Linked DNA regions of Homo sapiens: region 2 is linked to region 1. Evidence: fine-mapped QTL for protein levels in blood plasma. A gene starts in region 1. The other region holds a variant in brackets. All regions are shown on one strand. Distances are between the middles of the regions.

The links. A credible set is the group of variants that fine-mapping cannot tell apart. PIP is the chance, under the fine-mapping model, that this variant and not a neighbour inherited with it causes the effect. Protein levels are from the aptamer-based SomaScan assay of Sun 2018.
Region 2: its variant is the best candidate, but not a certain one, in a credible set for the plasma level of the B3GNT2 protein (Sun 2018, PIP 0.63).

What each region holds. Positions count from the first base shown.
Region 1 is chr2:62,183,838-62,198,499 of GRCh38, forward strand. B3GNT2 (UDP-GlcNAc:betaGal beta-1,3-N-acetylglucosaminyltransferase 2) reads left to right here and starts at 12,278. Exons shown (of 2, transcript NM_006577.6): 1 at 12,278-12,518. LOC124906013 (a long non-coding RNA gene) reads right to left here and starts at 12,176. Exons shown (of 2, transcript XR_007086336.1): 1 at 11,302-12,176; 2 at 10,152-11,070. RefSeq lists enhancers at 10,763-11,370, 11,977-12,583, 13,564-13,673 and silencers at 11,664-11,893, 12,184-12,623, 12,804-13,153.
Region 2 is chr2:62,329,775-62,345,588 of GRCh38, forward strand. No RefSeq gene overlaps it. Among named protein-coding and RNA genes, the nearest start is that of MIR5192, 130 kb to the left of the region's middle. RefSeq lists an enhancer at 4,230-4,459. The variant A/G (reference allele first, on the strand shown) is at 6,865.

The DNA of each region.
Region 1 (14,662 bases):
CTAAACCTTGGTCACCAGTCCAGATGACCCAGTATTCTGTCCTGCATACTGACCTCAACTGGGATTAACTCCATCCATCAGATTCTAGTGCAGGCCCACAATCCTTATTCAGGAGTTAGAATTTTCCAGATTTTGGGAAGTAATGGTATATACATATCATAGTCTATCTAACACCCCATGTTTCACTGCAGATATATGAATGTGTTCGGAGCAGCTCCATGATCAAACACCTTAACATATTTGTAGTGAAACATAGGATAAATAAAAACTATGCCCTCCCATAAGGTCCAGTCAGATTTTGCTGCCATGTTAGTTTTAGTGCCACCTTCTGAAAAAACTCATTTTCCAGCCCTTTATGGATTTCAGAATTGCAGACAAGATTGTGGGCCTGTGGGAGGAGGGGTGGCCTTTGTCAGCGCAGGGAGGGAAAAAAAGAAATCAAAACTGTTCATTTCCATTTCCCCAAGACAACCAACAGCCCCTGGCCTTATATCTACATAACCAAAGGACCCTCCAGTGGTTTTTTTCCAAGGGGAGTCGGTGTATCTACTGCTAGAATGAGGAGTGACGAGAAACTTGTAAATAGTTTTTCTTGTTAAAAAAAAAAATTTCTACCACATCTGGCTCCACACTACAGTAGGTGCAGCCCGAAGTATAAGATTCAAGTTCCTTGCTCTTACTCACTTAGCTGAAATGCTTGAGGTTTCTATAACACATATTCCCTGTGCTTCCTTAATAGACACAAAAACACCCATGTGTATGGCTTTAATTTTGAGGCATTTAACTAGATATATAACAATGCACAAAGTAATTTCCCCAGCTCCTTTCCATGACAACTATTTACATACCCTAGCATAACACTTCCTATGAGTTGGCCCTACAGCCAGAGTAGGAATACAGCCAGGGATGGGGTGGAGGAGGCAGGGCAGCATGGAGAGGCTGGATAAAATGATATTTCAGTATTTTTAGTGAGACAGAAAAAAATTCATGCAAACAGCTCTATTCCCTCCCCCTCTTTTTGTTTTGTAAAATCTTTCTTTCTCCAAAGCTCAGTTTTGAATTAGACCCTTGTTGACCATGTCTGCTTAAGTCTTAGATAAAGACTTATTTATTTGACCTGCATATCCATAGTTGCTAGAACTGCTCATTTCAATTTTCCTATTGTGTACACTGTGTTGGGAAGCTTGGCAGGAAGCACACTATGGAAATGTGGAACCGAACAGTTGAATGTGTGTGATTTGGGAAGTTCAGCAGATGCCAGGGCTTAGCAGGCTCCCGGCTTGTTCAAGACTAATCCTGTGGATTTTCATTCTTGTGGGCCTCATGCCCCTTAAGTCTGAGGGCTGGGTCCCGCTGGGTCCCACCCAGACTCAGTCCACACAGCTATCTCTCAGCTGTCCTACTAGTAACGACCAAGGTAGTGCTGTGCTGACTCTTGGATGCTCTCCTCTTCCCTCTCCCCAAGGAAGTGGAGGGTTCCAGAAATGGCCCTGGTCAAGGCTGCCGTGTTTTCTCTGGACATGAGTGTAGACTCCAGGTTGGATTCTAGGAGACCTGAGGGACTGACAATGCAAACTCATCTTCCCTATAGCAGATGACATGTGTCACCCAGATCCCCCCTCCAAGACTGAAGCACTCATGCCCCCATCTACTGGGAGTGCTGACGGCGGCAACTGTCCGCTGAGTTCCTCTCTGACACTTGTCCTCTGCTGCAGAGAGAGTCACCTTGCCTAAGATGAAGCTCACATTGACCACGGGCAGCCCACATCTAATGACTGGCGGACGCAGGAGTAAAAAGGGTTCGTCCTTTCACCCCAATTTGTAATAACTCTGGGCCATCCCACCACCAGAGCTCCCTGAAAGATCAGCTGAGGTCTTTACCATGATTGCACTGCAGTTCAACTTCTCTCTTTGTCCATTCCTACCCACCTCACTTCCCCTCAGGCGTTGATGCTGTACCTACCCTTCAATAAACTTCCTGCTTGCCAACCTCTGTTTCCGAGCTTGGAAACCTTACCTACAGCACCCCCTTTATCGGGCAGGTAGAGCCCTGTGTCTGGGGGACCATGCCTTCTTCATGCAATTCATGCTGCCCTCCCCCTCCACCCTATCCTGCCATCCTTTGAAAACTCAAATTGGTCTAAACGATTCAGGATGGCGCTATACACTCTCGCCAGTGATTGGCTTAGGAAGGGTCATGTGACTGTGTTCTAGCCAATGAGACGAGAAGGGAACTTGGGTAGAGAACTGTAGGAAAGGTTTTCTGGGTCATAACAAGAGACAAGGGAAGAAAGAGTCCCTTTTCTGTCGGATGTTGGCTCTGACTGAGATGCCTGAAATAGCTGTAGAAAGCAATAGATGTGAGAAGAAGATGGAGCCAAGAGAACAGCAGAGAAGTCAGACTGAAGCAGAGCCACGACGTGCTGGGTTGGAGCCTACTCTGCCTGTGATTTTCTTGTCATGTGTGATACATCCCCTTTGACAGCACAGAAGGGATTTGTCACACAAGTACTTAATGATGAAGTTGCATCAAATTTGCAATTTTAGTTCTAGTTCCAACTGCCCATTTCATTTTCCCACCCTTTGGGGGCCTTTGTGTTTTGAAATCCTTGGTTGTCAGGATTCTTTTCTTCTTGGAAGTTTTCTAGTGATCCAAACTCTCTTTTTTTCCTGATTTTTGATGGCCATAAACATGTCTGATTGATCAACTAAACTGCTTCCTTTTTCCATGGCCTTATGGGTGTAAAATTTATACGGCCAATGTTATGCAATGTGTATGCAGTGCTGGGGATGGAGGGCTGCTGACTCTGAAAAACCCTTTCCTGGGATGACCTTAGATGAGAAAAGAAGGAAATGGTGATGAAAAGCTTTCAAAATGTAAGGGAATGTGGCTTGGACCTAAATGGTTAGCACAGACTAGGATATTCTTAGAAAATGCCTCCCGCCTCTCTGTAGTTGATTTTGAAATGTCAGTTCATAACTGCCATACAGTTTGGCACAGGGAAAATTGCCTAACACAGCAGTGGGATTGATGGGTGGAGAAGCCCTTTCTTTTTTCCCACTTGCCCATACTCTTCTCTGCCTAAAGACTGCTGCTTCCTTTTTTTTTTTTTTAAAGTGGATGTACAATTTACAAACAATAAAATGCACATATTTCAAGCAGTTAACTAATAAAAAAATTATTTTTTTCCAGAAAAGAAAAGCACAAATATGAAGTTTACCGTGTAAAGAGTTGTGACAATGGTATGCTCCCATGTAACCAACATTCCAATTAAGTGGTAGAATCTTTCTCTTATCCCAGAAAATTCCCTCATGCTTTTTTTTCCAGTTAATTCTCTCTTTATCCCAGAAGCAACTCGAGTTCTGATTTCTGCCACCATAGATAAGTTCTTGCCTGTTCTTAAACTTCACTTGTACTTGCGTATGACTTCTTTCTCTCAGCGTAATGTTGGAAGATTCATCTGTGCTGTCGCATGGATCCTGCTTCCCTTTCAGACTATTTATGGGATCTGTTGCTCTCTGATTTCCCTGACTGCCGACTGTCGTGTTTGAGGAGGAGGCCCTGCCCTTCCTGGCAATGGTTTTGCTGTAAGACGATTTTGCCAAGTGAGTTTCGTAAGTCACTGGATCCTAAAGATCAAGCAGGTGGCTCCTTCCAGGGACAGCCAATTGATTTTTCCATTCTACATGATTATATTGATGATGATGGCGTCAGAACCCTTTGGAATGAGGACAGAATGGCAGTTCCTCCAGTGGAGGGCCCAGGACAAATGTTGAGAATGCGAAGCATTCTATGCCAAGATACCACTCATACTTTATCCTGATGGGGACTTGGTTCCATGGCCAAGACTGAGGAGGGAAACAAACATTTATTAAGCCCCAAATGTTTGCAGGTACTTGGCCATAAATGACCTAATTTCCTCTTCCTGAGAACTCTTTAGATGTTACTGTTCCCATGTGGACCACACTTGGCTTCTTCCCAAGGTGGGAGTTGAACCTGGAATTGGGGATTTCCATACCATGGTTTTTCACTAGCAGCAGCCAAGACCTAGGCCACTGTATCCATCTGAGTTGTTGCATGCATATCTCCATGTGGTGGTTAAACCTCACAATCATGTCCACAACTGGATTGCCACAAAGCAAGACTTGGAGCGAGATACACTCCCTTTCTTCCTTTCTCAATAAGAGCCACCTAGAGTTGGGAGATTGGTCTTCATTTTCTAAAAATATTCTCTTTCTCCATAGCCAGGCAGCTTTGATCTTTGGTAAAGGTGGGCAGATCTTTGTTATGCCCCCTGGAAATCACTGTTTTGTAACAGTTATGTTTACAACTGAGATGGTTTCTAAACCCTGAGAAGCATAACAAAGGGCGATGCCAGCAAAAAGGCATTAAGTTCTCTAATAGGCTTATGTCCTGATAATCATATTAATGGCACTGTCTCATGCTTGATGCTGCCATTATGGGCCTCTCGTCTTGAATATAATTTTTCAGTTTGATGATAATTAAGACTATGATTTTGCATTTCTCCTTACTGAGAATTCTATTCCCAAAACAATATGATGACCGTAATAGAGACAGCTGTTCATGCCCCTCCAAATTGTTGACCATAGGTACCACCACAATGTCCTATACACGCTGGACTTTACTAACCTGGGAATTTTAAGTTCTTTCAGCATCAGGACTCTGGAATATGGAGCAAGTCCCCTGGGAATCATTACATTTGTTTCTATATCTGCATCTGATAATGAGGCTGTTTTTCAACTGTTACAAAGTCCAAAGTCATAGTAACCTTCGGAGCAAAGGACCTGCTTTAAGAGCCAGGTGATTTTTAACCTGTGATTTAATTGTCCAACGTTCAAGATATTATCTCTGGTATTAGGTATTTGGCTTCCAGAAAGCTACTTTTGGGGCCTCATTTGCCAGTTCCAAGGGATTGGAGTAGAATTCTAAGAATTCCAGTGCCAAGCTTCCACACTTTCCATCAATAATTAATATTTTAGCCATTGAGAGAGGTGGTTGTTGTTTTCATAATTCCACTTGGGACTGATTAACAGACTAGGAAACATTGCCATCCTTCTGTGACAACCTAAGTTGGAGGATATACAAAGTTTGGGGATTTCTGCTGCTGATGCTATCTGTGTGTGCCTGGCCCTTAGACAGGCTGGGAACTTTTCTAGATCTGTGCTGAAAGGAGGAGGGAGATACAGGGCTCAGGCACCCATCTGGCCATGGGGTTTGCCACCGAGGAAGAAGGCTTTCATTCTGAACCATGTCCAAAGGGCTGCAGGAGTTGGTTCCAACAGAACCAAGAAGGTGGAAGCCAGCTCTGGGCTTATAGATGTTTGAGTTCCAGGGTGGCATCTCCATGGGGTCTGTACCTGAATGGCAGGTTGTTGGGGTGCTCCTGGTTAGTGAGGCAGAGGCAGTAAAGAACAAAGGAGGTGGGTGTAGACCAGGGCTGTGGCTCTGTGGGCATGAAGGTGTCCTAGGCTGGCCAGGTGAAGTGAGGCAAACCGCAGACCTTGAAGGCTGAGAAGGAGGGGCATTCAGGTCTGCTTGCTCAAAAGCTTGCAGTCTGGCTGGGCAAAAATACCAGGTGGATGCTGGCACCAAAGGGGACACAGGAAACTTGCTGAAGATCAGCCCGTTTCCTCACCAGAAAAATGGGTGACAAGGCCGGATGCTGTGGCTCGTGCCTGTAATCCCAGCACTTTGGGAGGCCAAGGCAGGTGGATCACTTGAGATCAGGATTTCGAGACCAGTGTGGCCATCAAGGTGAAATGCCATCTCTACTAAAAATACAAAAATTAGCTGGGCGTGGTGGTGCATGCTTGTAATCCCAGCTACTTGGGAGGCTGAGGTGGGAGGATCACTTAACCCTGGGAGGCAGAGGTTGTAGTGAGTTGAGATTGTACCACTGTACTCCAGCCTGGGGAAAAAAAAAAAAAGAAGAAGAAAGAGAGAGAGAGAGAAAGAGAAAAAGAAAGAATGAAAGAAAGAAAAAAAGAAAAGAAGAAGGAGTGACATGGAAAAGCCAGACATGAGAGGCCCAGGGCAAAGCACACAGGATTCACTGTGTAGTCTGGGCTGCCTGTCCACCTCGGAGGAGCACATGAGTGTGACTGAGAGGTGGCAGGGCTACAGGAGTGACAACACGCTGGGAAGCAGGAGTGCCAAGGGAGAAATCTATGACCTAGAAACTTTTTATAGACCCTCTTCAGACTGTCAGATCAACAGTCTTCACAGCCACAAAGAAATGGGCACATTCACAAATGTTCTCAGGATAAATGAGCAGTCTGGATGCCTTCCACTCCACCTTCTCCAGGAAGCCTCCCAGACTTTCCCAACCCTGACTAATTGTTCCCCTACCTGATCACTTCTCCTCCACGTCCCATAAATGCTGTTGTTCCTTTGGGGAGACTGTTGCCCAGCCATAGTGCCTGTCCCTTGCCTGGTGCTTTTTATCTTCTGCTCTCCTGGTCATTCCCTCTTGCCCACTCTCTTAAAACTTTAGCTCCTGGCTCCATGGCCTTCACACCATAACTGCCATTCCTCCTCACATCCTGGATGGCTTTCCTGTTCACACAGAGGACCTATCCAGTGCCCTCTTAATCTCTTGACCTCATATTCTCCAATGACTTTCTCCTCTATGCCTCCCCATCATGTCCTGGCATTGTCATGGCCCTAAACTTCTCCACCTCCTGAACTCCTTACTTCAGATCCAGATCTCTGACCCAATTCCTCTCCTTCTGGTGTGACTTGGTCTTGACTCCTTGACTTTTCCAGTCCTTTGGCTCCTGTCCTTTCTCTCTGATCATTCACCGTGCCACCTCACCTTTGCCAAAGCTCTCAATTCCTTTGCTCCTCTGCCCTGGTAATTTCCTCATTTGAGCTGGCACCACAGTGGGCAGCTGAGCTGTTGGAAGAAACCACACAGGAGGGCCAAAGCGCACCTTAAAAGTTCACAGGCACCAGCCTCAAGTGGACTGCCATGCTGCCTTGCTATCTGGCTGTTTCTCTGGTCATCACGACCCTCCCAAACTCCTGCAGTGACTGTCATACCTTCTCCACTCTCTTCAAATCTGTCATCTCTCCTTGCCCTATTGCTAGCCTCCTTTATGTCACAGAGTTAAGAGGAAATCATCAGGTGGAAAGATTCAACTATCTCTGTGATGGCAGCCTGGCTCAGTCCTCCTCCAGCCTCCTTCCTCCTGTTATAATACAGAAGGTGGCCCCTGCCTCAGATCAGCCTTTCCACCCACACTCTGGTCCATCCCTCCCATGGGCACAGGAGCCTTTGTGCTCCATTGTCCTTTCTCTACTGTACCTTCATCTTCCTCTTCTCTGTGGGATCCTCCTTATTTGCATTTAAATATACTGAAGTAATTCCATCCTAAAAATAATTAAAATACATAAACCAAAATAAACCCACTGCTGACATAACATTCCCCTCCAGCTATTTCTCTGACTTTTCACAGTTAAACCTTTCAAGAATTGTCTGCACCTTGTGCCTTTCATTTCTTCACCTGTTGCTCATGCCTCCATCCACTCCAGTCTATTGCCCATCCCCTTCATTCCACCAGCCGCTGCTCTGTAAAAGTCCCAACGACATCAAGGTCACTAACTCCAGTGGATGTTATTCAACTTTCACTTCACTTGGGTCACTTAGCCTTTTTTTTTTTTTTTTTTTTTTTTTTTTTTGAGATGGAGTCTTGTTCTGTTGCCCAGGCTGGAGTGCAGTGGCCTGATCTCAGTTCACTGCAAGCCCCGCCTCCCGGGTTCATGCCATTCTTCTGCCTCAGCCTCCCGAGTAGCTGGGACTACAGGCACCCACCGCCACACCGGCTAATTTTTTGTATTTTTAGTAGAGATGGGGTTTCACCGTGTTAGCCAGGATGGTCTTGATCTCCTGACCTCGTGATCTACCCACCTCAGCTTCCCAAAGTGCTGGGATTACAGGTGTGAACCACTGCTCCTGGCCAGCCATTTTTAAAAAAAGACATGGGGGTCTCGCTATGTTGCCCAGGCTGGCCTCAAATTGGGCTCAAGCTATCCTCCCACCTCAGTCTCCTGAGTAGCTGACACTACAGGTGTGTGCCACTAGACACATCTTTTGTCACCCATTTTGAGTGCTGTTGACTACTGCCTCCTGCTTAGAGTGCTTTTGTCCCTGGACTCTGTGACCCCCACCTCCCCAAACTCCTAGTTTTTTCTTTTTTTTTTTTTTTTTGAGACAGAGTCTCACTCTGTCGCCCAGGCTGGAGTGCATGGTGTGAACTCGGCTCACTTTAACCTCCACCTCCTGGGTTCAAGCGATTCTCTTGTCTCAACCTCCCAAGTAGCTGGGATTACAGGCGCCTGCCACCACGCCCAGCTAATTTTTAGTAAATATGGGGTTTCACCATGTTGTCCAGGCTGGTCTCAAACTCCTGACCTCAGGTGATCCACCTGCCTCGGCCTCCCAAAGTGCTGGGATTACAGGCGTGAGCCACTGCACCTGGCCAAGCTCCTGGTTTTCCTCCTGCCTCTCTGGCTGCTCTTCCACCTCCTCTGCCAGAGGTTTGCCTCTGTCTGGCCCTTAGATAAGAGTTCCTCAAGGCTCAGTGGTAGGTCCTCTTCTGATCTAATTGTACACTCTCATAGGAGCCCACAAGCCTCTGGTGACTTCATTACCACTGCCACACCAGCTATTCCAGCCCCAGCCTCTCCTCAGAGCCCCAGACCCTGCAGCCAACCACCTGTTCAACATCTCCACCCGGACATCTCACAGGCACCTCAAACCTACTTTGACCAAATTTGAACCTTGAGAGGGTTCTCCAACTCAGAAAATGGCACCACCATCCATCTGGTTAAAGAAGCAGAGATCTGGGAGTTTTCCTTGATTCATCCCCCCTAAGCAATTACCAAGTCTCGTTGGTGTCTACCTCTCTACATTTGCTCTACTGCTTAAACAAATGGCCCCTCTCACATTATAGCAACAGCCTCCTAACTGTCCCTCCATTCCATTCTTCCCCTTTCCCTATTCCTTCTTCACACTGCAGTCAGAGTGATCTACTTCAAAATGCAAAATTGAGTGTATGACTCTTGTTTCAAATGTCTCAGGATAAAGTCCAAACTCTGTAATGTGGTGTACTGGCCCTGCGTGATCTAACCCCTGCCTGCCTCTCTAACTTCCTCCTCAACCACTTCTTCCTTTATAGTCTGAACCAGCCAGGAACTCCTCATGGACTCCCCAGATGATCTCACCACCTTGCACTCCCTGTGGCCCATATCACAATTGTAATTAATTAATAGTGCATTTAATTGTTAAGCCCCTCTCTCCAGCTAGACTGTGAGCTCCAAGCAGGGAGTGTGTTTGCCATGTTCACCACTCCAGCGCCTAGTCCTGTGCTGCATCTAGAGGATGGCCAGTACATTTTTGTTGAATAAGTGAATAACACATCTCTGCCTACTGATGATGGACCTGGGTCCCAACCTAACAGTAGGGACTATAGCCAAGCGATGTGGAATCTAGCATTGAGTTACTCCCCAAAAGACACAAGGTAACTATTGTAGATATACTCCCAACTGTGTTAAAGCCACCATGGAGAAAATGCCCTTATTTATTTGAGACGGAGTCTTGCTCTGTCGCCCAGGCTGGAGTGCAGTGGCACGATCTCGGCTCAGTGCAACCTCCACCTCCCGAGTTCAAGCAATTCTCCTGCCTCAGCCTGCCAAGTAGCTGGGACTACAGGTGTCCACCACCACACCTGGCTAATTTTTTTGTATTTTTTGTAGAGACGGGGTTTTACCATGTTGGCCAGGGTGGTCTTGAACTCCTGACCTCAAGTGATCCGCCCACCTTGGCCTCCCAAGGTACTGGGATTACAGGCATGAGCCACCGTGCCTGGCCTAAGAATACCCTTATTTTTAAATTTCATGGCCTGGGCAGCCTTGGGCAGCGAGGGACACAAGCTTAATTTCCTAGTTGGTTGCCAGCTGACATTGTAGCAGCTCCTTTACTATAAACTCCTTGGCTGGCCGTTCTTGCAAGCATGTCTGTGGCTACAGGGAGTGCATTTAAAGGGAAGACACATATGCATGGAAACAATATACCAATCTGATGGCACAGAAAATCTTCCTTAGATGTCCGCTTTGTCTCAACACTGCATTTAAATATCAGACAGCAGCCTAGAGATATCTTTATTTAAACCCAGGAACATGGACTCAATATTATTTTGATACAGAATGAAGACATAGACTTCATTTATTAATTTATACTCCCTAGAGTTCTTTTTTTTTTTTTGAGACAGAGTCTCACTCTGTCACCCAGGCTGGAGTACAGTGGCACGATTTCGGCTTACTGCAACCTCCGCCTCCCTGAGTTCGGCGATTGTCCTGCCTCAGCCTCCCAAGTGGCTGGGATTACAGGTACATGTCACCATTAATTTTTGTATTTTTAGTAGAAACAGGGTTTCACCATGTTGGCCAGACAGGTCTCGAACTCCTGACCTTGTGATCCACCCGCCTCGGCCTCCCAAAGTGCTGGGATTACAGGCGTGAGCCACCGCGCCCGGCCTCTACTTCCTAGAGTTCTTAGAGAATTTCTAGCTTCTGTTTCTTTAAACATGTTTTATTAGCTTTCTAAATTATGAAAGTAAATACAACTGGAAAAATACAAAATCCAAAGTCAAGGGAGTAAAAAAATGTAACTCCCTTGTTTCCCCTCCCCGCGTAACCGTGGTTAACAGTCGGTGTGCACCCTTACAGATGTTTTTTCTATGAAAATACAAACATTCGACTTGTTTCTTGGACTTTACCTCGCAGTCCGAGGAGAATCATGTGAACAGCATGAAAGCAGCATGGTCCGAAGACTGCAAACCATAACATTTCCATATCTACTGACTCTGAATTCCTGTTTCTAGAGGACCCGCACCCACGTGGCTCTGTGCATCCGCAGCAACTTGGTCTTTCTTCCTTTGCTGAGTTTGGTTAAGGGAAAGGGCCGATTATTGAGTGGGCTCAGTTCACAGGTGCCTGAAATTCCTACTTAGCAATGTTCCTTTCCAGCTGATTCCGCCTCCGAGAGCCTTAGGAAAAAATGCTAACAGTTAGGAGCGAAGCGTCCTTAATTGCTCAGTCCAATTATCTAGATGGGTCCAGGTTCGGTTTCGATTCAGAGATAAGGACCAGGGGGCGGGGACGCTTCCAGGTGAGCCCCTGGTTAGGCTTGCCTCCCCGCGGAGCGCACGCGGGTCTCGCTGGCTGGACTGGGCCTTTCAAGACCAGGTAACTTCTCCATCCGGTATCGCCAGGCTTACCTGGGGGCCTCAGAATTGTGTCAGCTGCGTCTCTGAGTCACCTTGGAACCCCTCGAAGGAGCGCGGGGCTAGGAGGGCGCATCGGTGGGCCCGGGGACCCCGCTGCTAGGTGTGGTTGGCGCCAAGGCCGCCTCTGGCCGGCGGAGCCCTGCAGTGTCCGGAGGGTGCGGTCAGAGTCCGGCCCTTTAGGCCTTGCCTCGGTATCCGCCTTGCCCCTTGGGCCGCGGCACGGGTTCGGGCCGAGCGCCCGGCATCTTGCGTTTCTGGCTTCCTGAGACGGGCGTGGGACCTCGAGGAAACCACTCTGCATGACCCCACGAAGAGAACTAAGGACCACCCCCCACCCTTCCTGTCCTGGACGGCTTCATAAGCCAGAGGATCCAGTGGCAGTACCAAGCAGGGCACCACTCTGGGTCGTGAGCACCTAAGAGGTGGAGCAAAGGTCAGACCCCAGGGTGGCCCAGGCCTCCCTCCCCCGCCTCCCCGGCGGGGCCATTCCTCACCCGCCCCAGCACTGGAGGGGGCGGCCGGGGTCGGTCTAGTTCCGGTTACAAACTGGACAGAAAAGGCCACTGGAGTCTCGCTAGGCGATGCGCCTAGTCCCCTAGCCTCAGACGAACCGCAAGAGGGGCCACCCACAACTGGAGGGGCGGAGGCTGGAGCTGAGTTTCATTAGTGTTTTTGGAGCTGCCAGGCATTTCCAGGGGGGTCGCCTTCCTAGAGGCCCCCTTTCCCCAGCTTAACCCTCGGCTTTGCAGGAGGGTGCGTGGGGGCTGGAGGGTCCCTGGAAGCCGCAGGGAGCGCGGGCCCGGGTGGGTCCTGGTACCGGGTGGGGAGAGCGGAACCCTCCCAAAACTTGGGGCGCGGGGCGGGGCCGTCGGGCGGTGACGTGAGGGGCGGGGCCGGGCCCCATTGGCGGGCGGGCAGGGGAGGGGCGGGGCCGGGCGCCCGCGGCGGCTGCTGCGCCTGGAACCGGAGCCTGGAGTGAGGCGCAGCGGCAGCGGCAGCAGCGGCAACAAGTGCCGGAGGCTAGCAGAGCCAAGCCGGAGCAGTCCCTGCCGCCGACACCGCCGGGCCGCCCGTCCGGGGCGCCGCGCATGGAGCGTGAGCTGCGGCGGTCGCCGGGCTGAGCCGCGCGGAGCGGCCGGGACGTGGATGTGGCCGCGATCTCCCGCCCTTGCCCCCGCCCCGCCGAGCTGGAGCTGCTCCCGGACAAGGTAGGGCCCGGGCGCCGAGCACCCCCGCCGGCTCCCTCCCCGCTGCCCTCTCACCGCCAGGCCCCTCTACCAGTCCCCTTCCGCCTCCCTGCTTCCCGGCCCCACCTTCCGGACACCCTGCTACCCCCGCCCGGTTCCTCGCCGGTTCCGGCTTCGTACCCGCGCCCCGGTGGAGGAAGCCGTCCCTAGGTGGCTCCTGCCGCATTTAAGCCTCCCTTACCTTCCCGCCGTCCCAGCCACCCAACCTCAGCCCAGAGGGAGAGGAGAGGGACACCGCCCGCTGCGGGGCTTTGGAACCTCCCAACCCATTCCGTGCCCACCTCGCCCTGGAGCCCGGGGACCTTCCCCCTCCTCGCTGCACCCCAACTTCCGGGGGATCCGGCGCCGGGGCGATGCGGGCTTTGGCAAGGGGCATCTGGGGCCGGGCCTCCTCATCCGGGGCGCGCGGGCATTTCGGGGAGGGGGGCGCGCGTGATTCCTCGCTCGCACCCCCGCACCCCACCCTCGCACTGCGCCGGCCTCCCGTGCCGCATGGGGAGATCAGGTGTTTTGTGAGCCAAAGAGCCGCCGGCAGCCGCTCCCCACCCCCCACCCCCAACCTCTGCCACTTCTGTCTCCGGCTCCCCCAAAACTGGTTTCTGCCAAACTTAGGGAAAACCTTTCGCTTTGACCTTTTAAAAAAAATATTCCACACTGTTTGCGTTGAATGATTAACCAGGCTGCTAGCCCGAGTCGTGGGGGTGGGGTGGGGCGGGGTGGGGTGGGTGCTGCCAGGCCAGGGAGCGCCTGAAGCCGGACTCTACGAGACACCCCTCGTGGGAAGGTGGGCGTGGGGGGCCCTGCCGGGGCTGCGGGCGCGGGACTGGCGGCTACTCCAGCACGGCAGGCGGACCCTTCTGGAGGCAATAAACCGAGTCACCCGGTTAATTTCCAGGCCACGGTATTTGAAACTCGGGGCTGGGGAGCCGCAGAACTCCCTGTACCCCCATCAAGTAGAGGAGCCGTCGGGAGACTCCCCACAAGTGTCACAGCGTCAAAGCTCATCTTTAAAAATATGTACATTTATAACCTGGGTTGGCGAGGCGGCGCTCTTCTGCCCAAAACGTAGGGGTGGTTAGTTTGTAGAGTGGGCTTAGCTCACAGGTGCCTGAGCTGTATCCCCGTGGCCGCCTCAGCCACCCCAACTTCTCAGAAAGATTGTTTAGAACAATTAAACTATATTCTTTTGCCCTTCTCTTGTTGGAACCCTACCGTAATATCCGATAGCGAAGCCAGTTGGTGAATATAGAATTCTACTTGTTAAAACAAATTCTTCCGGTATAATTATTTGTGCCTCTGGAGGTGGTAAACGAGGTGGCCGACAGGGCCGGGACTGGGAGTGAAAAGGCGGGGACCCTGGCCGAGCCAGTCCCGGGGCTCCGGTGCCGGCTTATAGTCGCACCCATGCGGATCTGACAGCTGACCCGGAGGGAGGACCGGCAGGGCAGGGCAGGGCGGTCACTTCCCATTGTCCTAACTCCTGCTCCTGGTTCTTTTGAGTAGAGGGTGGTTAAGCCTGGAGGAATTTGGGAGAGTTTTACTCGGAGCCCATGCGCTCTTAAACCAGATTAGATTTTAAGAACACAGAAGTGAAGGAGCCCCATAGGGCTGTACTTGAGTAATTTGAGTAATCCTTTTCCTCCCTGCTCAGACTTTACAAATGTGTTTATCATTAGATCTTCTGTTTGAAACTACTTTTTTAGTTCGGAATATTGCTTTTTCTCCCTACAGCAAGGGTTCACTGTTTCTCATTTAGTTTTTGTGCAGGCGGCATTTGTATGATGAAGGCCTAATTCTCTGTGAAACTGACCAGTTCTCACCCTTGCCATTCATTAGACTTGATTCTGCCACATTTAATTCAGTGATCTTGGGCAAGTTATTCTTCACCTGAGCCTCATTTTACACATCTGGTTTTGGGGATGGTGGTGTTTGCTCTGCAAGATTATTTCTGAGGACAAATAGGATGTTTGCCAAACTCCTAGCACTGCACCAGGAGAGCTAAGAAGTGCTTAATAAATGGTGGTCATTGCTGTAATCAATAGAGAAGTTCCTCCTGGCATCGACTTCCCCTTACCAAAAACAGTAACCCTGTGGTAGCCTTTTAG
Region 2 (15,814 bases), 150 kb after region 1:
AACTCTTATGGTTTAGGTTAAACTAGACAAAGTAAACTCTTTTTGCGTAAACTGGATTCTTAGCGCTCACAAAACCTCAGAATTCTTTGTGAGCCTGGAGTTTGCATACCTGTCCTGCCTTCCCTTTCCTTAGCCCGGGTGGTCTGGCAGAGCTGGGAAGGTCGTTGCAGAGTATAAGGTGTACCACTTTCCCCCCAGGGCAAGAGGCCTCTACACCCACCTGGGGCTTCACTGTGGCTGGCCTTGGGTTTGAGCCCTGCCTTTGAACACAGCAGGGGGACACAGTCCCTGCCCTGGGCTGGAAGTAGTTGATTCACGCTGCTGTAACAAAATACCATACACTGGGCAGCTTATAAACAACAGAAATGTATTTCTCATAGTTGTAGAGGCTGGGAAATCCCAAGATGAAAGTTCTGGCAGATTCAGTGTCTGTTGAAGGTCTGCTTCCTGGTTCATAGATGGCGCCGTCTCAATGTGTCCTCACTTGGTAGAAGGAGTGTCGATGAAAAGAGTCCAACTCTGTAAAATATTTGAAGAGATTTATTCCGAGCTAAATATGAGTGACCCATGGCCCATGACACAGCCCTCAGGAGGGCCTGAGAACATGCGCCCAAGGTGGTCAGGGCACAGTTTGGTTTTATACATTTTAGGAAAACATTAGTGTATTAGTCCTTTTTCATACTGCTATAAAGAATGGCTTGAGACCAGGTAATTTATAAAGAAAAGAGGTTTAATTGACTCACAGTTCAGCATGGCTGGGGAGGCCTCAGGAAACTTATAATCATGGCAGAAGGTGAAGCAAGGCACCTTCTTCACAAGGCAGCAGGAAGGAGAAGTGTTGAGCGGAGGGGGAAGAGTCCCTTATAAAACCATCAGATCTCATGAGAACTCACTCACTATCACAAGAACAGCATGGAGGGAACTATCCCTTGATTCAATTACCTCCACCTGGTTTCTCCCTTGACATGTGGGGATTATGGGGATTACTCTTCTAGATGAGATTTAGGTGGGGACACAGAACCTAACCATATCAATGAGACATCAATCTAATACACATAAATGTACATTGGTTTGGTCCAGAAAGGTAGGACAACAGGAAGGAGTGGGGGACTTCCAGGTCATAGGTAGATTCAAAAATTTTTCTGATTGGCAATTGGTTGAAAGAGTTAAGTTATTGTCTAAAGACTTAGGAATGCCTGGGATAAGATAAGGGGTTGTAGAGGCAAGGTTTTCTCATGCAGGTAAAGCCTCTAGGTAGTGGGCTTCAGAGAGAATAGATTGTAAATGTTTCTTATCAGACTTAAAGAGTCTGTTCTATCAGTAATTCCAAAAAGGAGGAGGGTATAGGGAGGCAGTCTGACCCCTCCTTTCCATCATGGCCTGAACTAGTTTTTCAGGTTAGCTTTGGAATGCCCTTGCCAAGAGGAGGGGTCTGTGCAGATGGTGCGGGGCTTAGAATTTTATTTTTGGTTTACAGGAGCAAGGCAGCTCCCTGGGCTTTTTCTACAAAGGCTCTAATCCCACTCATGAGGGCACAGCCCTCACAACCTAATCACCCCCAAAGGCCCCCCCAACCCACCTCCTAACACCATTACCTTGGGGGTTAGGATTTTAACCAGAGAGGAGGAATTTTGGGGGAACACAAACATTCAGACCTTGGCACTCAGGAAGCTGGGAAATGATACCAGGTATTGGAGAGGAAAAATGGCTTTCCTCTATCCTTCTGGTTCATTGGCTAGGCTACTAATTACATTGACATTAGACAGATTAACAGGGGGAAAAACATGTTTAATTCCATGCATACACATGGGAGACCCACAGAAACAGGAGAGTCACAGAAGGGCCAAATGATTGGAGGTTATATAGCATCCTGAGCTACAGAAAGGAACAGGGGCTTGGGGCTTCTGGGGGGTTACCTTACACAGATGAAAAGTCTCTCAGGTAATAAAGCTTGTCTAAGCAGCCTTCTTCCTAATACAGATACTTTTACTAAGGTAAACTTCCTTTATAGATGTGTTTTTTTTTTTTTATAAAAAGAAAGCTTTTCAGAGCTACCCCTGTCTGCAGTTTCTCAGAATAACCAGCTCAAAATATACCAATGAAGTGTATTTTGGGGTGGCATATTTGGGTCTCCTACAGTAATATTTTTGGGTGGTGTGTCCTGAGCCCCAACACAGAAAGACAAACGATGGGGTCTGAGGACAGGTGAGCCAGCCTGAGGGTGAGTGGCTTTGGGTGGGGGACTGGGGAAAGGTCAACTGAATGAGCTGAGGATAGGGATGGGGTATCACATATTCAGGAAATGCTGAACACCCTGGGGGAGGGAAAGAAAACCTGGGGGTTAGAAAGCATGTCTACCAGGTGGGGCATGGTGGCTCAAGCACTTTGGGAGGCCGAGGCAGGTGGATCACCTGAGGCCAGGAGTTTGAGACCAGCCTGGCCAACATGGTGAAACCCCATCTCCACTAAAAATACAAAAAAGTTAGCCAGGGGTATTGGTGTGCACCTGTAATCCTAGCTACTTAGGAGGCTGAAGCAGGAGAATCTCTTGAACTCGAAAGGCAGAGGGTTGCTGTGAGCTGAGATCACGCCACTGCACTCCAGCCTGGGCGACAGAGCAAGACTCCGTCTCAAAAAAAAAAAAAAAAAAAAAAAAAAAAAAAAAAAAAAGCATGTCTACCAGTTTTCAAGTTGAAACACTGCCTCTCCTTCTTATTCTCCTACAATTCTGCTTCCATGGGTTTTCTACATGTGGCAGTGGTTAGGAGGAGTTTTGCAACATTTCAAACAAATGAGCTTTGTGTTTGTAGGGAAGGAAGGCTATCTAAACACTGATATGTCTAGAGAGACTGGTGAAGAACTTTTCCAAATGGGCTGCCAGGCTCTGCAAGCCAGTGAGCTCAGAGAAAAGCTCATCAGGGCCAAGAGAGAACTCTTTCTATATCCTCAGGATCCAGCCCTAGGTACCCGGGACAGCATTCTCTTCCCACCCAGAGAAGCCAGGGTTCCACAGAACTGAGCCTCCTTCCAGCACTAGCGGCTGGTGGGGGTTGAGGATTACCCGTATTTCATCCAACTGGAGACACCATCCACTGTAAGCTGCACTGTTATTTTATGTACCATTATGCAAGAAAAAAAAAAGCCAAATATGGAGACACCACTTAAAAGCTGGGATGCTGTAAGAAAATAAGTCTTCCCACAGGAGTGGCAGGCTGGAAATGCGCACGTCTCAATCCTGACACTGTGGAGGGAGGAACAACAATTCTCTCCTGACAATTTGAACCACGAGCCTGTGCTCATGCAGATTTGAGGTCTGAATTCATGCTGTCAGTGTGGTCTGAAAAAGTCAAGCTGAAAATTAATTTAATGTGGTCTCAGGTTGGTGGTGACCTAGAAGTGACTGGCAGCTGTGCATCATTTCCAGGAGAACTCAGCTTCGCATTGCAGGACGCCACTCATTTTAAAACACATCCTGGTTTCAGTGATGTTAAATATGAAGAAATGTGTTGCTTAAAATTAATGATGAAGGGGGCCAGGTGCGGTGGCTCACGCCTGTAATCCCAGCACTTTGGGAGGCTGAGGTGGGTGGATCATGAGGTCAAGAGATTGAGACTATCCTGGCCAACACGGTGAAACCCCATCTCTACTAAAAATACAAAAATTAGCTGGGCATGGTGGCGCGTGCCTGTAGTCCCAGCTACTCGGGAGGCTGAGGCAGGAGAATCACTTGAATCCGGGAGGCAGAGGCTGCAGTGAGCCAAGATTCCACCACTGCACTCCAGCCTGGCAACACAGCGAGACTCCATCTCAAAAAAAAAAAAAAAATTAATGATGTATGGGCATGAAACGGATGTGACGTTGGCTGAACTTATTACTAACTTTTCCAGGTTTGTCTGGAACGTTCCTGGTTTTAGCTCTAAAAGCCATGCTCCCTATGAAATCCCTCAGTCCCAGATGAACCACAAAGGTTGATCACTCCACCCATCTGGTTGTCTTTTGGAGTTATCTCCTCTGGCCTAGGGGGCCTTGTTTTTACAGGGGTGGGATGATTGTACCGCAGCACGGACACCTGACCTGGGGGGAGAATAGGGGAATATGGAAATTTAAACTCAGGAATCTGAAGAAATGAGAACACTTTCGGAGAACACTAGGCCTGGCCTAGTTATTCAGTTTCTCTTGGGTTCCTGTGCATTGAAATAATTTCAATAAATTCTCCCTTTTATTTACGTGCTCTTTGAGGGGTGGGGTAATTTCAGTATATCTCTGGCCTTTATAGCTAATGGGGCCCTGACTGAGGTAGGGAGGCAGCCCTGAAAGGCTTTTTAGAGGCTCCAAGACTAGCCTAGGCGCCAGGCTTGCCACTTGGAAAGCTTCCAAGAGAAACCAGCGATGCCTGTCAGCGGGTCTGTGTATGTAGGGGATGGGCTCTCCTTAGGCAGATTTGTCTAAATGAAGCAGAAGTACCATGAGCTCCATCCAACACTGTTGTTATTCTCACAACCCTGTAATTAGAATGATGTGAATTATTCCCTAAACAAAGGCCTAGAGAATAGTTTAACCATCTCTGTTTTATTTGTGTACTAAATAACTGTACTTGGAGTCATGTTTGTTTCCAAGCTCCTTATCACGTGTTTTCCTTTTTCTCTTCCCTGCCTCCTATACCAGTAAACTTCTTGAGGGAAGAGTAAGGTTCTCCTGCTCATACCTGCCTCTCCCAGGGCCCAGCATAGCTGCTTGTTTTCCTGTAAGCTCCTCGAGGACAGGGAGTGGGCCTCTGTGTGTTCCTAACGCCGAGCACCATCGTGACACCTAATAAGTTCTCAGTGAGTGAGTGCTGAACTGAGCTGCCACTTGTAGACTCACCAATAAATACCTGAGCCAAGGATGACGGATTTCCTCATCCAGTCATTCACTGAGTAGTTAATGAATTTGTATTATACGCCTCCATGCAGCTTACATTCTACTGAAAGGCAGACCAAAACCTAGTAAACAGACAAATAAAGTCAGAATAAGGTATGGTAAATGCTGTGGGAAACAAAAAGGAGAAAGAGGCCTAGTTGAGATAGAATAGCCAGGGAAAAACCCCTCTGAGGAGGTGACAGCTGTGAGAAAGGAAACACTTTCTCCCCACTCTCTTAGGTTCAGTGTTGGAGGCCTGTGAATTAAACTGACAAAAGACAGATTGGCAAAACAAAAACAGAATTTTACTCACATACATACATGGGAATTCACAGAAAAATGTGGCTCAAAGAGGTGATTAGGATTGGGGGCTTATATATCTTTTTCACAGGCTCTCAGATGAAAGACCTTTGTCTTTTGGCGGTAGCTCTGACATTTTATGACACAATATACACCCTTAATAGGAGAAGGGGATGGAGAGAAAGGAGACTGGAAAACCAGCGACTTCTAGAAAAGATAAATGGGCCCTAAGGCAAATAGATATGAGGGAGATATGATAGTTTTGTGACCATGTCTATTTAGGAGAGTTTTTATAGCCTTGTGGCTTCCCCTCTGGTGAAGGGAGTCACTCTTCCATGGTTGGGAAACCTCTGGGAAGGGGATCTATGATGGTTGCATTCTTTTGGGAGGCTCTGCTTTTAGGCAGAAAGGGGAGTTTAGGAAAGAAACTCTCTTCACCATGGTATGTTCTGGATCCTTTTGCTAGAAAGTTGGTTTCTTTTTTTTTTTTTTCTTGAAACAGAGTCTTGCTCTGTCACCCAGGCTGGAGTGCAATGGCTTGTGGATGTCCTTCTGCAGCTTTCTCTGTATTCATTGTTATGGACTGAATTGTGTCCCTCCAGATTCATACGGCGAAGCCCTAAACCCCTAATTCGACTGTATTTGGAGGCAGGGCCTACAAGGAGCTAATTAAGATTTAGTGAGGTCACAAGGGTGCAGCCTAAAGCCAAAAGGACCGCTGTCCTTATAAGAAGGGAAAGAGACACGAGAGAGCTCCCACTTCTCTCCTAAGCAAGCACAAAGAAGGGGCCATATGAGGACATAGGAGAAGGCAGCTGTCTACAGGACAGGAAGAAAGGCCTCACCAGAAAGCAGCCCTGACAGCATTTTGATCTTGGACTTCCGGCCTCCAGAACTGAGAAAATAAATCTCTGTTGCTGAAGCCACCCAGTCTGTGGTATTTTGTGATGGCAGCCCTAGCCAACTAATAGACTCGGATTAGTATACACAAAGATCCGTGCACAGGGAGTGTGTCTTATTTGATGTTTATTTGAGCAAAAATGGGATTGGGCTATACTCTCTTTCCTCTGAAACTAGCCTTAGTCATTAACACTATTAAATGGCCGTCTGGCTTCTTGCTGACACCCCACATCCAGTTCCATCAGGACGTCCTGCAGGCTCCACCTTCAAAATCCATCTGGAATCAGACTGCATCCCCCCACCTCGTGGCTTCCACTTGGTGCAAGCCCAATCCTGTCTCTCTCACTTAGCTACAGCAGCCTCTACACCCCTCTCTGCTTCCACCCTTGTCCCTTCAGTCCATTCCCCTCACAGCAGCCAGAGGAACCCTTTGAAATCTGTCAGATCACGTTGCTCCTCAGCTTAGAAATCTTAACTGGTTTCCATTCTACTCAGAGTAAAAACCTATCTTAGCCAGGTGGGGGGAGTGCATTCATTGTCTGTTACTCGGGAGGCTGAGGCAGGAGGATTGCTTGAGTCCAGGAGTTCAAATGCAGCCTGAGCAACACAGTGAGACCCCATCAGTAAAAAACCAAAAAAACCAAAACCAAAGTCTTCACCAGGAGCTGCCAGGCCCTACGTGGTCTACAACATGCATATACATCCCCCGCCCCCCAACATCCCTGCTCTGCTCTCTGACCTTCCCTCCCATCCCCATCTCCTGCT[A/G]CCCTGGCCTCCTTGATGCTACTAGATCACACTAAGCACATTCCCAAATCAGGGCCTTGGCACTCAGTCTGGAATGCCCGTCCTCCTGATGGCCACAATGTTCCTTCCCTCACTTCCTCCCGGGCTCCATCCCCCAACCCACCACCATTATTCTTCATAGCATTTCTCACCAGCTGATACTATATACTTATTTATTTGTTTATGGCCTGTCTTCCTCCACTAAGATGTGAAATGCATGAGCAAAAAACCTTGTCTTATTCCCTGCTATATCCCTAGCATTTAAACAGTACTAGGTTCATAGATGATGCTCAGTAAATATTCAATAAAGAAATCTCTCCAAGTCACTAAACATAAATATAACAACCTTTTCAATGGTTTTATAACATGTGCTAATATGAATAGATCACAATTCACGAAACCATCTCCCGTTAATGATGTATATGTTGTTTTTCACTTTTTGCTACATTAAGCGATGCTTGTGACAGACATTTTTACGTACCCTTCTCTATTAGTCCTTTTGTTTCTATAGGATATCTTCTCTAAAGCTGGATTGGTGTGTCAAGAGATAGGCATCGGCTGGGTGTGGTGTCTCACACCTGTAATCCCAGCACTTTGGGAGGCCGAGGTGGGCAGATCATGAAGTCAGGAGTTCGAGACCAGCCTGACTAACATGGTGAAACCCCATCTCTACTAAAAATACAAAAATTAGCCGGGCATGGTGGCGTGTGCCTGTAATCCCAGCTACTCAGGAGGGTGAGGTAGGAGAATCTCTTAAACCTGGGAGGCAGAGGTTGTGGTGAGCCAAGATCACGCCACTGGACTCCAGCTTGGTCATGACAGAGTGAGACTGCATCTCAAAAAAAGAAAAAAAAAATGAGAGAGATAGACATCAAGTTTGAATAGCCATTAGTGCTTTTCCTTAGTCACTGTTCATAGACAAATCCCCAAGCAAGGCCTCCATCATTTCCTGGAATCTGGGGCCAGTGCAATATTGCCCTTAGACCAGGCAAGAGGCCCTCTACCCTTTGGAGGGCCTTGCATGTCACAAACACAAAAATTAAATTTATTGAAGACCACATGGGAGCTTTTGTCACCTGGGATGCTGGACATATCACTGGCACAGTGTGACCCGTAATCGTGAGCACCGATGAGTGAGATGAACACCCTTAGTCTCCACATTTCCCTCCTATGTTCTCAAAACAAAAGGCTGCTGAGCCCAAACACTGCGAAGGTCTACAGGTTGTGCCCCTGCTGACACTGGAGACAGACACTGCTTTGGAGGGAGAAGGAATGTAATTGCCTCATATGTGTGTCCCTTCTCTCAGAGAGCATGAATTCAAGAGGTCCTGGCATAACCAAATATTATTTCTCAATAGTGCCAAGGGCCTATTTTTTTCTTAATTTGTCCTAATCCGTGATTCTGGAGGCATTCACAAATTAGCTTAGTGTTTACAGGAGTCGCACGTGGTGGCTGTGTCAGTTATCTATTCCTGCGTAACAAACCACACCGAAACTGGGTGGCTTAAAACGACAAAAATTTATTTGCTCATAATTCTAGGTTGGGCTCAGCTGGGCAATTTTTCTGCTGATCTCCTTTGGGGTCACTTATACAGCTGCAGTCAGCCAGCAGCTCAGCTGGCACTGGATGTTCCCAGATGGCTTTGTTTATGTGCTTGATATTTACGCTGGCTATTGGCTGGGGTGCCCTAGTTCTCCTTCAAATAGCCTTTCCTCCTTTAGGAAAGAACTGGGCATTTTCACATAATGGCAGAAATGTGTAATGTAATTAAGGCCTAGCTGTGGGAGTTGCAACATGTTACTTCTGTCTCAGTCTATGGAGCAAATGAAGCCTTAAGGGATGCCCAGATCCAGGGGTTGGAAGGATATAGACTCTATGTCTCCATGAGAAACATGGCAGAAATTATATTGCAAAGGGGCTGGATGCAGGGAGGTAAGACGTGTTGGGGACCATTATGTAACAATATACCACAGTGCCTGAGGAACATTTTGCCAGGCTGAAGAATTGATATTTTTTGGCGAGGCACAGTGGCTCACATGTGTAATTCTAGCACTTTGGGAGGCCAAGGTGGGTGAATCGCTTGAGCTCAGGAGTTCAAGACCAGCCTGGGCAACATGGTGAAACCCTGTCTCTACCAAAAATACAAAAAATTAGCCAGGTGTGATGGTGTGCACCTGTGGTCCCAGCTACTTGGGAACCTGAGGTGGGAGAATCGCTTGAGCCTGGGAGGTGGAGAGCCATGATCGCACCACTGTACTCCAGCCTGAGTGACAGAGTTAGATCCTGTCTTAAAAAAAGGAAAAAAAAAAGAATTCATATTTGTCTTACATTTATATACATGTAGTTGTAAGATATTTGAAGCATGATACAGATTCTTTGCTTTGCTTATTAAGCAGACATTAAAACCCAGAATTGTGAAGTTTTATTTATTAATTTTGAGATGGAGTCTCGCTCTGTTGCCAGGCTGGAGTGCAGTGGCACGATCTTGGCTCACTGCAACAACCTCTGCTTCCCTGGTTCAAGTGATTCTCCTGCCTCAGCCTCCCGAGTAGCTAGAACTACAGGTACGCACCACCACACCCAGCTAATTTTTGTATTTTTAGTACAGATGGGGTTTCACCATGTTGGCCAGGATGGTCTCAATCTCTTGACCTCATGATCTACCAGCCTTGGCCTCCCAAAGTTTTGGGATTACAGGCGTGAGCCACTGTGCCTGGCTGAAGTTTTATTTTTATAATAATATTGAATAAGATTTAATTATCAAGTATAAAAAAATTTAGCCTTACTTAAATAACTTTATTTTTTAAATTTACTAAATTTTTGTATTTTGCTTTGTAATATTAATAATTTGGACAGGCGTGGTGGCTCATGCCTGTAATCCCAGCACCTTGGGAGGCTAAGGTGAGAGGATCACTTGAGCCCAGGAGTTTGAGACCAGCCTGGGCAACATAGTGAGACCCCTGGTGGAGCTGGGGAAAGAGCCACAGAGAGAGCTCAAAAAATTAGCTGGGCATGGTAGTGAGCACCTGTAGTCCCAGCTACTTGGAAGGCTTAGGTGGGAAGATTGCTTAAGTTTGGGAGGTCGAGGCTACTGTTGCCCAGGATGGAGTGCAGTGAACTGTGATCATACCACTGCACTCCAGCCTGGGCAACAGAGCAAGACACTGTCTCAAAAAAAAAAAAAAAAGTTGAATGTTTTAGAAGAAAAACAACTTTATTTTGTAAACTCTTAGATCACTAGGAATGAATACAAGTTGAGTTGGGATCAATTTAGAAAATATGACAGTGGAGCTCAAAAAAAAAAAAAAGCCAAAAAAGGAAAAGTATTCAGAAGCGCATCAGCTTAAATTTTTTAAAACTGGCAACACTGAAAATGAACAGTTTTCTGTTGAGGTCTCTCATAAAATTTGTAAGCAAGAGAACTTCACAAACTCTTTTTCTTTTCCCTTCCCTCCTTCCCTCCCTCCCTCCCTCCCTGCCTCCCTCCCTCCCTTCCTTCCTTCCATTTTTGAGCCAGGGTCTTGCTCTATTGCCCAGGCTAGAGTACCGTGGCATTATCATAGCTCACTGCAGCCTGGAACTCCTGGGCTCAAGCATATCTCCTGCCTCAGCCTCCCAAGCTAAGACTACAAATGCATACACCTCACATGGCTAATTTTTTATCTTTTGTAGAGATGAGGTCCAGCTATGTTGCCCAGTCTGGTCTTCAGCTCCTGGCCTCAAGTGATTCTGCTGCTGCCCAGGCTGGAGTGCAGTGAGCTGTCATCACAGCCTCCTAAAGTGTTGGGATTACAGGTGCGAGTCACAATGCCCAGCCACAGATTCTTTTTTAATGAGATTTTAATGCTGATGAAACTGTAAAAATAAGCAAGAAAATTATTCTCATTAAATTCATAACTTGAAGAGGTTGAATGCAATTCCTGCAACTTCTTTTTTTTTTTTTTTTTGAGACAGAGTCTCGCTGGAGTGCAGTGGTGCGATCTCGGCTCACTGCAACCTCCCCTCCTGGGTTCAAGCAATTCTCCTGCCTCAGCCTCCCAAGTAGCTGGGATTACAGGCGCCCGCCACCATGCCACCTAATTTTTGTATTTTTAGTAGAGACGAGGGTTTCTCCATGTTGGTCAGGCTGGTCTCGAACTCCTGACCTCAGGTGATCCACCCACCTCAGCCTCCAAAAGTGTTAGGCCTGGCCGCAACTTCATATTTTTTTTTTTACCAAATGAGGATCTGATTACAGATCCAAAGAATAAGAAGGTATGTGGCCTCTGTTTGCACTTGCAAGTGTTGGGGGCAATGAAACTGTGTCAATCAGCTTCCTTCTCCCCAGAGTCTGTTTTCAGGTTAGGCAGGAGAACAGGGCAGAGTCATTCCCAGAAGCCTGGGCCTTGTCAGATTCTTCAGAAGAGACGGCCTCCTGGGACACTCTGGATCCCTGGCAGAGAGCTCAACCCTGACAGCCTCCCTGAGTCATACCAGAGCAGTCACTGGGTCCTGATGTCCCTGTTTCAGATGCTCTGCTCCCTGCCCCCGCATCTCTGGAGTCATCGGGCTGCTGCATGCCCATCAACCTGAGTAGTTGCAGGCTATTGGTGTCATTTCTGGAAAAGAAGGCAGCTGCTTCTCTGTTTGTTTTTCTCTTCCAACACAGTGCCGTATTTACCTACAGAACCACCACAAAGTGACAGCCCTGGCAGATCTGCTACCATTCAGCAGCTGCCTCAAGTCACCCAACATAGTGTTTGAGTCTCCAGTGAGAGGGAGGGAGACAAAGGCTGCATTCCACAGACCTGGTGATGGAGGCCCAGAGGAGAGAAGTGATTTCCTCAAGGTCACCCTGCTTCTCGGTAGCAGACCCAGGATTCTCAATCTTTAGTTCAGATGTTTCCCATTGTATGAATTAGGAATACTGAACTGTCTTCACTTTTTGTTTGTTTGTTTGTCTTTGAGACAGGGTCTCACTCCCCTTGCCCAGGCTAGATTGCAGTGGTGCAATCACAGCTCACTGCAGCCTCAACTTTCTGGGCTTAGGTGATTTTCCCTTCTCAGCCTCCTGGGTATCTGGGACTACAGGTGTGTGCCACCATGCCTGGCTCATTTTTTGTATTTTAGTAGAGATGGGGTTTCGCTATGTTGCTCAGGCTGGTCTTGAACTCCTGGGCTCAAGTGATCCACCTGCCTTGGTCTCCCAAAGTGCTGGGATTACAGGCGTGAGCCACATCTTGGTTAGAAGTTTGTTCTTTTGTTTTTTTGCCCTCCTTTGTAAGACAGCCCTATCCTGATAAATTATCAGGATACAGGCTTAGGGATTGGGTGAGTTTACCAATGAGATTGCAAGAATGCTAATTAAATTATCCCTTTCCCAGGAGCCTCTGCTTCCTGAGGCTGCCCCACTCCCAGCCAGCAAATGCAAATGGACTTAACTGCAGTAAACTTTTGTTTACTTGGGGATGTTGGTTACATTTTCAACTGCAAAGATTTATAACCAAAGTTAAGGGGTTATAAAAAGACCTCAGTGTCCTATTTATTATAACGTGAAAAGTAAATATCCAGACTACTTTATTTGCAATAGCAAAAGTTTGGAAATAACTAACTTGCCCATTAAAATAGGATTGATGAAATGACTTCTAGTACATCCACAGGACAGCATACTATGGAGATATGAAAAAGGAATGATACAGAAGCTTTCCTTTTTACTTTTAAGTTATATTTTTTGCATAATAATCTACAAATAGAATACTGTATAATGAAAAGCCTCCCTTCTATTCTGTCTCCCAGCCACCAAGTTCACCTTCTGACAGGCAACCAGCATGACCTATTTCTTCTGTAACCTTTTAAAGACATTTCATTCACATAGAAGCATTTATAAGGATAGTCAGCCCAGTATTTTGAGGCTGGGCTCAAATGCCTCTGGCTTTTTTCATTTACTGTTTTCATTTGTTCAGGAAACACTTACCGAGCACCTACTATGTGTCAAGCACTCTTTTAGGCATTTGGAATTTGGTAGTGAACAAAACAAATACATTTCTTGCCCTCCTGGAGCTTACATTTAAAAAAATTTTTTTTTTTTCCAAGACAAGGTCTTGCTCTGTCACCCAGGCTGGAGTGCAGTGATGTGAACACTGCTTGCTTCAGCCTCGGCCTCCTGGGCTCAAGTGATCCTTCTGCCTCAGCCTTCCAAGTAGGTGGGACTACAGGCACCCACCACTACCCCCAGCCAGTTTTTAAATTTTCTGTAGAGACGGGGTCTCACCATGTTGCCCAGGCTGGTCTCAAACTCCTGGGCTCAAGCAATCCTCCCTTCTTGCCCTCCCAAAGTGCTAGCATTACAAGTGAGCCACTGAGCTGGCCACACTTACATTTTTGTGGGATATAAATAAACAAGTGATATATAGTGATAAGTGGTAAGTGCTATGGAGCAAAACAGGGTAAGGGGATAGATGTGTGTGCATGTATGCATGTGTGTGTGGCGAGGGTGGTGGTGAATGGGATGTGGATATTTTATGATAGGGTGGTGTGGAAGACCAGAATATGCCACCCCAAAATATGAAGGATTTTTGAGCTAAAGACAATTAAGAAGAAGCAGATACAGGAAAGCTCTCTGCCCTCCTTCTATTTGCCTAAAAGCAGGACATAGATTTACAAAGGCAAAAGATATCCTACCCTGCTACCCTTCTTCCAGGGAAAACAAAGATTAGCACTGAAGGTCTAACTTTGGACCCTTATCAGCCTGGAGATGTCACCAGAGGAAGCCACATGAACAGGCCTTACTAGCCAGGCTGTTTCTGCCATTTATTGGCTTTCTCACAAGTTGCTGCCCCTAGAGACTCAAAATCCTTTTCCTTTGCCTTGTCACTTCTCTAAATATTCATTGTTCTTTGTTGACAATGCCACATAAGCTAGAATTCAAAGCCACCTTTTTGAGAACTACTCATTCTCTGGGTGTGTTCCATGTATACATTAAATATACATGTTAAACTTCAGTTTGTTTTTATCTCATCTTTTGCTACAAGGGTCTTTTCCAATCAAAAACCTATGAGGGTTGAAGAAAAAATTATTTTTATTCTCCTATAGTGGTCAGTGAAAGATTTGCCAAGGCCTGAAGAAAGTGAGAGAGTGAGCCAGGTTTCTTCTGCTTTGAATCCAGATATCTGGATTTGAACCTTCAAAGCCTTCAAACCCTCCACGTGGAGCGGAAGGAACTTGCTCTGAGGAACAAAGCAGTTATGGTTGAAACTGAGTGAATATATCTTGGAGATCTTCTGTATCATGAGAACTTGCTCATTCTTTTTACACCTGCATCTTATTCCATTGTATGTGTGCACCACGGCTGAATTAAGCAGGCTGTTACTAATGGAGATTTCTAAGACATCTGTTCTTTTGTGATTGCAAACAATATTGCAGTGAGTAACCTTATCAGGTGGTTCTTTGCAATATGCAAATTTCTGTGGAATTAATTCCCAGAAGTGGAATTGCTAGGTCAAAGGTATGTGTGCCTGTATTTTCATATAGATTTTGCCAAACTGTAACTAACAAAGAAGGTGAACTATTTTTGGTCTGCTGCCAACTATATATTGATTTTTTTTTTTTTTATTTGAGACAGAGTTTTGCTCTTGTTGCCCAGGCTGGAGTGCAATGGCGCAAACTTGGCTCACTGCAACCTCCGCCTTCTGGGTTCAAGCAATTCTCCTGCCTCAGCCTCTCGAGTAGGTGGGATTACAGGCCCCCGCCACCATGCCCGGCTAATTTTTTGTATTTCTAGTAGAGATGGGGTTTCACCATGTTGGCCAGGCTGGTCTCGAACTCCTGGCCTCAAGTGATCTGCCCGTCTCAGTCTCCCAAAGTGCTGGGATTACAAACATGAGCCACCGCACCTGGCCAATTCATTATTCTTTAAGTAAATACGTATTGAGCACCTACCATGAACCAGGTACTAGTCTAAATGCTGACAGTTGAGAATTGGAACAGAAACCACAACTTGCCAAGCATATCCTGACTCACAGAACAGATTGACTGTGCCAGACCAGTCATGCCAGAAGCTATGACGTGCTTCATACACTATCAAAACTCAATACTCAACACCGATTTGTTCAGACCCATGATCCCAAGGTGAGACCACTGACAATTCCATTAATTATCTAGTTTTCAAAATCTAACCAATCCTTGCAAAGAGCACCCTCTAAATAACATCTGGGACAAAATATACCCATTAGTGAAGACCATTTGACTTTGGGTAGTGCAATAGGAAGAACATTCATTAATGAGAAAGGTCTCAAAAAAGAGGAAACAAACTTGCATTTTTTTTTTTTTTTTTGAGATGGAATCTCGCTCTTTCACCCAGGCTGGAGTGTAGTGGTGCCATCTTGGCTCACTGCAACCTCTGCCTCCTGGGTTCAACTGATTCTCTTGCCTCAGTCTCCCGAGTAGCTGGGACTACAGGCGCCCACCAGCATGCCCAGCTGATTTTCGTATTTTTAGTAGGGATGGGGTTTCAGCATGTTGGCCAGGCTGGTCTCAAACTCCTGACCTGAGGTGATCCACCCACCCGGACTTCCCAAAATGGTGGGATTACAGGCATGAGCCACTGTGCCCAGCCCAAACTTGCATTTTGATAAAACAAGGGTGTCATTGAGGAAGAGTGGAGGCAAGTCTCATCTTGGACATGTCAGGTGAGGTGGTCCTTTGTAGTTAGCCTTTTCTCTGAACATAAGGGTGGTGGGATTTCCTAACCATTAAAAAGGTGCTATCTCGGCCGGGCATGGTGGCTCATGCCTGTAATCCCAGCACTTTGGGAGGCCTAGGCAGGCAGATCACGAGGTCAGGAGTTCGAGACCAGCCTGGCCAACATGCTGAAACCTTGTCTCTACTAAAAACACAAAAAAAATTAGTCGAGTATGGTGGTACGCTCCTGTAGTTCCAGCTACTCGGGAGGCT